Homo sapiens: one gene and its partner. The protein of the gene in region 1 interacts with the protein of each later gene in a pairwise test. Each region holds a gene or a part of one and is shown on either strand. Other genes may lie near its edges.

Region 1 (3,553 bases):
GGACCGTGTTTCTTCGCCTCGCCTCCCTGGTGGTCCTGCTCTTCTCTCTCTGGAATCAGATCACTTGTGGGGGCGACTCCGAGGCTGAGGACTGCAAAACCTGTGGCTACAATTACAAACAACTTCCGGTGAGAACGGCATGGGTGTGCGTGGGACTCTTGGGTCCCTGAAGGAAAGATGGAGCTGGGTGGGTCCAGACTCTTGGTTTGGGCGGAGAGGGGAGCTTGGGGTGCTGGAACACTCTCCCAAGGGTATGAAAGTTTGAAAAACGAGGACCCCCAGAGAAAGTATTGACAGGGTCTCATAGGCTTGCGATGTGGAGACTCGGACGCGTGGGCCTCCAGGTGCCCGGGTCCCGAGTTCTTTCTGATATATTTCTTCCTTCTTCAGTGCTGGGAGACTGTCCTGGGCCAGGAAATGTACAAACTTCTGCTCTTTGATCTGCTGACTGTCTTGGCAGTCGCGCTGCTCATCCAGTTTCCTAGAAAGTGAGAGCCCCGCCCCTTGCTGTGGCCCCGCCCCTCTAGGACGAGGCCGTGCCCCATCGCGCTGTTCTTTTCACCGCGCACCTTTTTACCATTCCCGCCTCTGCCTGCTCCCTTTGCTTGCCCTAGGTCCGCAGATCTCCCCGCTCCCCGCCCTTGTTTTAGTGGGTTACTTCCCTCTGGCCCCGACGGCGGCGACATCTGGGTCCCTTCTAGTCCTCAGGACCCGCCCTCTGGACACACCCCCTCCACGTGGAGTCCTGAAAGTCCCGCCCCCCCCCCCCCCACCACCAATACGCATGCTTCCTATTGGCGGGCGGGGCGGTGGAGGCGTGGAAACTCCAGGCCGCCACTCCCCTGACTCCGGCCCGGCCCCGCCCCGTCCTTCAGGCTCCTCTGTGGCCTCTGTCCTGGGGCGCTGGGTCGTCTGGCGGGGACCCAAGAGTTCCAGGTGCCCGACGAGGTGCTGGGGCTCATCTACGCGCAGACGGTGGTCTGGGTGGGGAGTTTTTTCTGCCCTTTACTGCCCCTGCTTAACACGGTCAAGTTCCTGCTGCTTTTCTACCTGAAGAAGGTAAGGGGTAGGGGGGACCCTTGGGTCTGAGGCAGGAGGTATTGGGGCCCGCACTCCTGGGTCAAGGGCAAGGAAGATCCTGGGGGCCTGGATTACTCGGTCCTGAGAGAGGAGGGGGTTGGAGGACAGACTACTGCATCTGAGAGGAGGGGTCTAGGGCATTCTGACTTATATGTCTGAGGATCTGGGGACTCAGACTCCGGGGTCCTAGATGAGGAAGGGGCTCAGACTCCTGGTTCGGAAAAAAGGAGAGGCAGGTAGGCCGGGTGCAGTGGCTCACGCCTGTAATCCCAGCACTTCGGGAGACTAAGGCGGGTGGATCACCTGAGGTCAGGAGTTTGAGACCAGCCTGGCTAACATGGCAAAACCCCGTCTCTACTAAAAATACAAAAAAAATTAGCCGGGCTTAGTGGCAGGCGCCTGTAATCCCAGCTACTCAGGAGGCTGAGGCAGGGGAATTGCTTGAACCAGGGAGGTGAAGGTCGAAGTGAGCCAAGATCGTGCCACTGCACTCCAGCCTGGGCGACAGAGCGAGACTCCGTCTCAAAAAGAGAAAACAAACAAACAACAACAACAGCAAAACAAATTAGCCGGGAGTGGTGGTGCACACCTGTAATCCCAGCTACTCGGGAGGCTGAGACACGAGAATAGCTTGAACCCGGGAGGGGAGGCTGCAGTGAGAGCCACTGCACTCCAGCCTGGGCGACAGAGCGAGACTCTGTCTCAAAAAAAAAAGCCTGGGCGACAGAGCGAGACTCTGTCTCAAAAAAAAAAAAAAAAAAAAATGGAGGCACAGACTCTTGTGTTTCAGAGCCCTTTTCTCCGTGCCTTCCCCCACCAGCTTACCCTCTTCTCCACCTGCTCCCCGGCTGCCCGCACCTTCCGGGCCTCCGCGGCGAATTTCTTTTTCCCCTTGGTCCTTCTCCTGGGTCTGGCCATCTCCAGCGTTCCCCTGCTTTACAGCATCTTCCTGTAAGTGCGAGAGGCTCCCGCCTCTCTCCCTCCCTCTCTCCCCATTCAGTGTTCAGACTCCTGGCACTATGTGAGCCCAGCCTGTCTTGACTTCAGGATCCCGCCTTCTAAGCTGTGTGGTCCATTCCGGGGGCAGTCGTCCATCTGGGCCCAGATCCCTGAGTCTATTTCCAGCCTCCCTGAGACCACCCAGAATTTCCTCTTCTTCCTGGGGACCCAGGCTTTTGCTGTGCCCCTTCTGCTGATCTCCAGGTGAGACGGCCCAGACTTCTGGGTCTGGGTTTGAATGCGTGTGATCTGGGGGCCACCACCTGCGTCCAAGAGAGGAGAGGCTTGGGCGTGGGAGCAGGCAACGTACTGAGTCTGAGGGAGGAGGCCTAGGCTCCTGGACTGCTGGGTCCGAAGGAGGAGGTGGGCGGGACGTAGGACTCCTGGATCTGAAGGCGGAGGGGCTGGGAGACTGAACTCCTTGAGCCCAGACGAGGAGGGGCTTAGGCGTCCACATCCCTGGCTTCGAAGGAGCCAGACGTTTGGATATAATGGAAGAGCGTGTCAGGAGTGGCTTCCGTTCCTGTCTCCTTCAGCATCCTGATGGCGTACACTGTGGCTCTGGCTAACTCCTACGGACGCCTCATCTCTGAGCTCAAACGTCAGAGAGAGACGGTGAGCCAGGCGGGTCCCTGAGAGGGCCCCTGGGGAACATGGAAAGGGGTTGGGGAAGAGGATTGTCTCACCTCCACCTCTCTTTGCCCCAGGAGGCGCAGAATAAAGTCTTCCTGGCACGGCGCGCTGTGGCGCTGACCTCCACCAAACCGGCTCTTTGACCCCCGCAGCCCACGTCCCGCTTTCAGACCCCAGGCCCATTGTAAGCCTAGGTCACAACATCTGTAAACTAGGAGAACTGGAGAAGACTCCACGCCCTTCCAGCTTTGGTATCTGGAGATTTCCAGGGCCCCTCGCCGCCACGTCCCTGACTCTCGGGTGATCTTCCTTGTATCAATAAATACAGCCGAGGTTGCTGAGCGCGCTTTGAAATCTGCGTCCTGAAGGTGGGGGCAGGGCTACAGCGGGGCAGGAGCCAATCAAATGTACGGGCATGTTTGTCGGTGCAGAGCGCTCTTCCGCAAGGAGACTTGTCGGTCATGTCGGCCAATCGACGGCCGCATCTGGTAGCATCAGGGGCGGGCCAACTTATGATTGGTTCAGATCTGTGACAAGAGGCGGTTGCTAGGGGATACCACGAGCCGAACGCCTAGCATTCGCTGTGATAAAGGGCGTCTCAGCCAATCACCTGTCGCTACAGGCCAGGGGGCCGTACCAACTAATTCGGAACCAATCCGCGGTCGAAGTAGGGACAAGAAAAAGGGGGGCATCCTCTCGCCAATCGGAAGTGCAAAGAGGCGGGCGTGCCAGTCCCTGGACAGCTACGACGCCATGAATATCTTGCCCAAGAAGAGCTGGCACGTCCGGAACAAGGACAATGTCGCCCGCGTGCGGCGTGACGAGGCCCAGGCCCGGGAGG
Region 2 (4,068 bases), on another chromosome or scaffold:
TGAAGAAATATGTCACTTCTCTCACAAATAATCAATCAGTCTTGGCAGCAAGTTACAATAGCGGTCCATCTCATCAGAACTGGCTCTTACTACTATGGATTCTAAAAAATCCATAACCCTGAGGTTGAAGACACAGTTCCTCTTTCTACAGCAAAGAGAATGCTTAATATTATCGGAGCCCTGTCTGCTCATAGACAAGGAACTCACAAAATAATAATAATGCTAGAAACTGAAGTGGTATATTACTTAAGAATAAAACTATTACCTTCAATGACATACTGACCAATACAGAATGTAAAGACTTTAGAAGAGGCTGGGCTTTTTTTTTTTGTTTTTTTTTCCTTTGATTTGAGGGGACTTTGGAGTCTCAATGTAAGGAAGCTAGCTGTGAGACTAAAAATTAAGATTCTCAATTTACAGTTGATTTTTCAGGCTATAAAAGATCTTGATGGCTTTTAGACACACTCATGATTTAGCTTTTTGCAAATAAAGGTGTTGAAAGCATAGAAAATTTCCTTATGAAAGAAAAATCTGTCTTGTTTTCTGCGTGTTTTACTCACTGGCTATCATTGACTAAAAATTTACACTACAAGCTGGAATTTTAACTATTCCACAATGTCAATTTAAATTTTCCATGAATAAATGAGAAATGCCATTGAGTGGCTGTTCTCCAGGTACTTTAAACGCCTCAGTAAGTCATGATAGCTGCCTAAGAGGATGGTCTGTACTGCTCATCTAAAGCACCTCTTCATAAACACTGTTTTAACTACTGTCTACACCTCAAACAGAAAACTAACACCACGTGTCACCTAAAAGGTAAACCCGCCTCAGCAAGTGGATCAAAAAGTCATTCTGGTGTCTTGTTAAGTATTACTTTCATCACTAATTTCCTTCTTCAGTTACTTATGTTTAAAGAAAAAAAAAGTGAGCCATTGATTTAGCCACTTCACTCGAAAGTGCACCTTCCAAAGGTGCTCTTGTGGTCAAAATTTTTCTTTGAAGACAGAAAAGGTGAAGGGCGGACTTCTCCTCAGTGATCCTGGTCACTGTGCAGCAGGTGGGTGTATAAGAAATGCACCAATATGGGCAATCTCAGAATAGAGGTTTGCAGAAACCGTTCCTAGAGGCACCAAAACGTAGTTAACCGGGTGTCTGACCACATGGCTGCCAGGAGCCTAGTGAGTCTGCGCACACGCACTACCTCCGCCCCGGCAGTTCCTGAGTGGGTGCGCAGGCGCAAGAGGAGCACACCGTTGCCATTGCAGACCGTCACTCCCTGAGGAGCCTGAGAGCCGGCCGGGTGCTGGGCTCCTGGCTATCCCTGTGATGGTAGCTCAGCGAGATCTGGGGACCTGGCGCTGAGCGCGTTGCCAGCCGGGATCTTCCTCTTCATCTAGGCCTGGGCGCTGGCGTGAGAACTCGGACTGGGTCCTGGACGAGCGCCCCCCGAAACTCCTTGGAACCTTGAACAAGTAAAATGCAGGGTAGTGATGTCGCTTTGCTGGAGTGCTTTCGTGTCAGAAGCCATAAAGGGACACGGAGGCTGATTACGGTGTTCCTCTCCCTATCATACTCTGTAAACAGTAGGCACTATTTACTACTCAGAGATGATAGCTGTAAAATGCCGATATGTTTTAGTCATAGAGAGAGACTTTTCAGTTATGAAGGCTGTTATTCAGAACAGATGGATGAAAGTTGATGCCTCTAATATTAAGGCCTAGAAAGAAGAAAGAAGGCTATTGCTTCTGAATTTGGAGAGGTGGTGACTGAACAATAAGGAAAGGATCAAACTTACGTATTTTCTTCTAAGAAAATAATGTATATGTGCTTTGTACTGTTTTGTAGAAGTTTGCTAATAAAGACATCACCAAAGGTTAAAGAGAAAATCATCTAGAGGAAATGCTGGCAGTATGGCATGTGTTCTTTAACAAATCTCTACAGCAGATTCTCTCGTTTTAGGGGTAAGATTTCACTTTGACTAACTAAATTTAAGATCATGAACTATTTCATTTTTTTAACGGATATATTGGATCTAAAGGGGGACAGACTTGGTTAAATCAAAAGGGTAAAAGTTTTTTTTTTTTCAAATGTTGATTGTCTTCTACAAATTTTGACTGATCTCATGTTCCTTCATGTGCTGAGATATGGGGATACAGACTAAACCAACACACACAGGATAATAGAGAAATCCAAGTAAGGTTTAAAAGGAAAAAAGAGAGTACTGCACTTACATTTATGCAGTAGGATGATTATAAATTTGTCTCTTCTATTAAGTTATAAACATGTGAAGTTACAGTTTAGCTTTCTTAATGAACACCAAGGAATTATGAGTATCATGCTTTTTCACATCCAAAGGGGAGAAAACATTTCCACTCGTGAACTTTTCTTCTGAATTTGAATGTTGCATAGATCAATTATCTAAGTCGCCTATACGACTGTTCAGCAGAGGTTCTTAACCTCTTTGGGGTCACAGACCATTTTGGCATAGAATGAAAACTCTGAATCTTCTTTCCAGAATTATGTACATGTCACAATCCTTCGCATTTTTTTTCCCTGGGGGCAGGGGGTAGGCGGGTCTGACCTCCTGGAACTCATATTGATTCTAGATTAAGAATCATTTTTAAATAAGAAAACCTATCTTGTCCTTCTCCACACACTGGCAGTTCTTAACAAGCATTGGCTAATTAGCTATCTCATGGTTTTATATAAAACAATAGTCAATCATTTAAAAAGAGATAGTACTTTTCAAGCTCACTTACTTTTTTAACAGTTGGGAAAGTCACATGGAATCACTATTCTTGACACCAGTATGCTTATATAAGAGGTATTTGCTGGATGCCTTCTCTATTCTGGGCACCATATTAGAGGCTGGTGATAAAACAATAAAAAAAAAAAAACTCCAGGCCCTAAGGGATTTTGCAGTCTAGTGGGAGATATTTCTCCAGGCAAATCCAAAGAATTTCTGGAAAATTACCATTCTTGCAAATTTGATGCAAGGGGAAACGTTAAATTCTAAATCTATAAAAATGCATGATCGTTACCAAAAAAGAGACTTTTTCTTAAAAAAAAAACAAAACTTCTCCAAAATGTATTTTTTAAAGTTAGCCAATTGCACTTATATATTTCATAGACTGCCTGCTTTGCAAAGAGCTGGAACTCTTAAAACATTAAATAGCTTTCTGTTTAAGTTTATATGAAAATAAAATTTATGTGTCCTCTGTCATTTTTAAAGAGTAATCAAAAATGTGATTAAATATATGAAATATCAGTTCACATATAAATTCAGAAATAAATTTGCTGGGATTATAATTATCTTCTTACAAATTAGAGTTGAGTAATAATTCTCCCCTATTCAAAATCCTTCCCCTTTCCAATGGGAAAACCGAGTTCAAGCGAGTCCATTTTGGATATTTTCTGTATTGCTGTGTTGGATTATGCCCCACTCCAGCATACTTGTGAAAAAAATCATACCAAATACTCCTTGAAGGAAAAGATAAATCAAACCTTTATAAAATTCAAAAAGTGATTCATCTTTAATAAATTACTAATGTACAAGAAAATGTTGGATTTATGGCTTCCTGCATTATAGTAGATTAGTAACCACATTTTCTCTGAAGTAACCCCAATATTCTCTCATACCATTACTTGATAGGTAGGGAGACTATCCAGTGATAGAATCAAACTGTTAACTTACAGGAGAATTGGCCAGAGCTACTATTATTGAACAGCCTGTTGCTTTCAGTATGACTGATTCCTATTTGGTAAATCTCAGTCCTTCCTGATCGGTCCTTTTTTCTGGGATAACCAATCCAGGAAATACATCATTAAGTGCATTGCTGTTTTACTTTTGTATTTGTAAAGGTGTTAAATGCTTCTTATAGTTAACACTTATTGGAATTGTGTTTTAAATTACATTATTTCGGTACTAACATAATTCTCTTCTCACAGACTATCCAGATTATGATTGGCATCTTTCACATTTTCATGTGGTACTTTCTATTGGTTTTGTATATGGGACAAATTAAAGGAGCCTTTGGAACGTATGAACCTGTAACTTACAAAACAGGA

What was found.
Region 2: the proteins of TMC4 (region 1) and MS4A13 interact in binary tests that used the Homo sapiens proteins (3 or more experiments, as listed by UniProt).

The regions. Positions count from the first base shown.
Region 1 is NC_000019.10:54,159,608-54,163,160, reverse strand, and holds the end of TMC4 (voltage-gated chloride channel TMC4), read left to right. Parts: intron 1-1; coding exon 2-128; intron 129-390; coding exon 391-488; intron 489-875; coding exon 876-1,059; intron 1,060-1,900; coding exon 1,901-2,031; intron 2,032-2,127; coding exon 2,128-2,283; intron 2,284-2,550; exon of another isoform or gene 2,551-2,615; coding exon 2,616-2,694; intron 2,695-2,786; coding exon 2,787-2,855; 3' UTR 2,856-3,053; downstream 3,054-3,553. Other genes in the region: LENG1 (leukocyte receptor cluster member 1), read left to right, coding at 3,466-3,553. UniProt on the Homo sapiens protein: Voltage-gated chloride channel involved in high-concentration salt taste sensation. Depolarization induced by high NaCl concentration may trigger the activation of TMC4-mediated chloride influx into taste bud cells, helping the return to resting potential.
Region 2 is NC_000011.10:60,514,124-60,518,191, forward strand, and holds the start of MS4A13 (membrane-spanning 4-domains subfamily A member 13), read left to right. Parts: upstream 1-1,268; 5' UTR 1,269-1,484; intron 1,485-1,845; 5' UTR 1,846-1,961; intron 1,962-3,948; 5' UTR 3,949-3,960; coding exon 3,961-4,068. UniProt on the Homo sapiens protein: May be involved in signal transduction as a component of a multimeric receptor complex.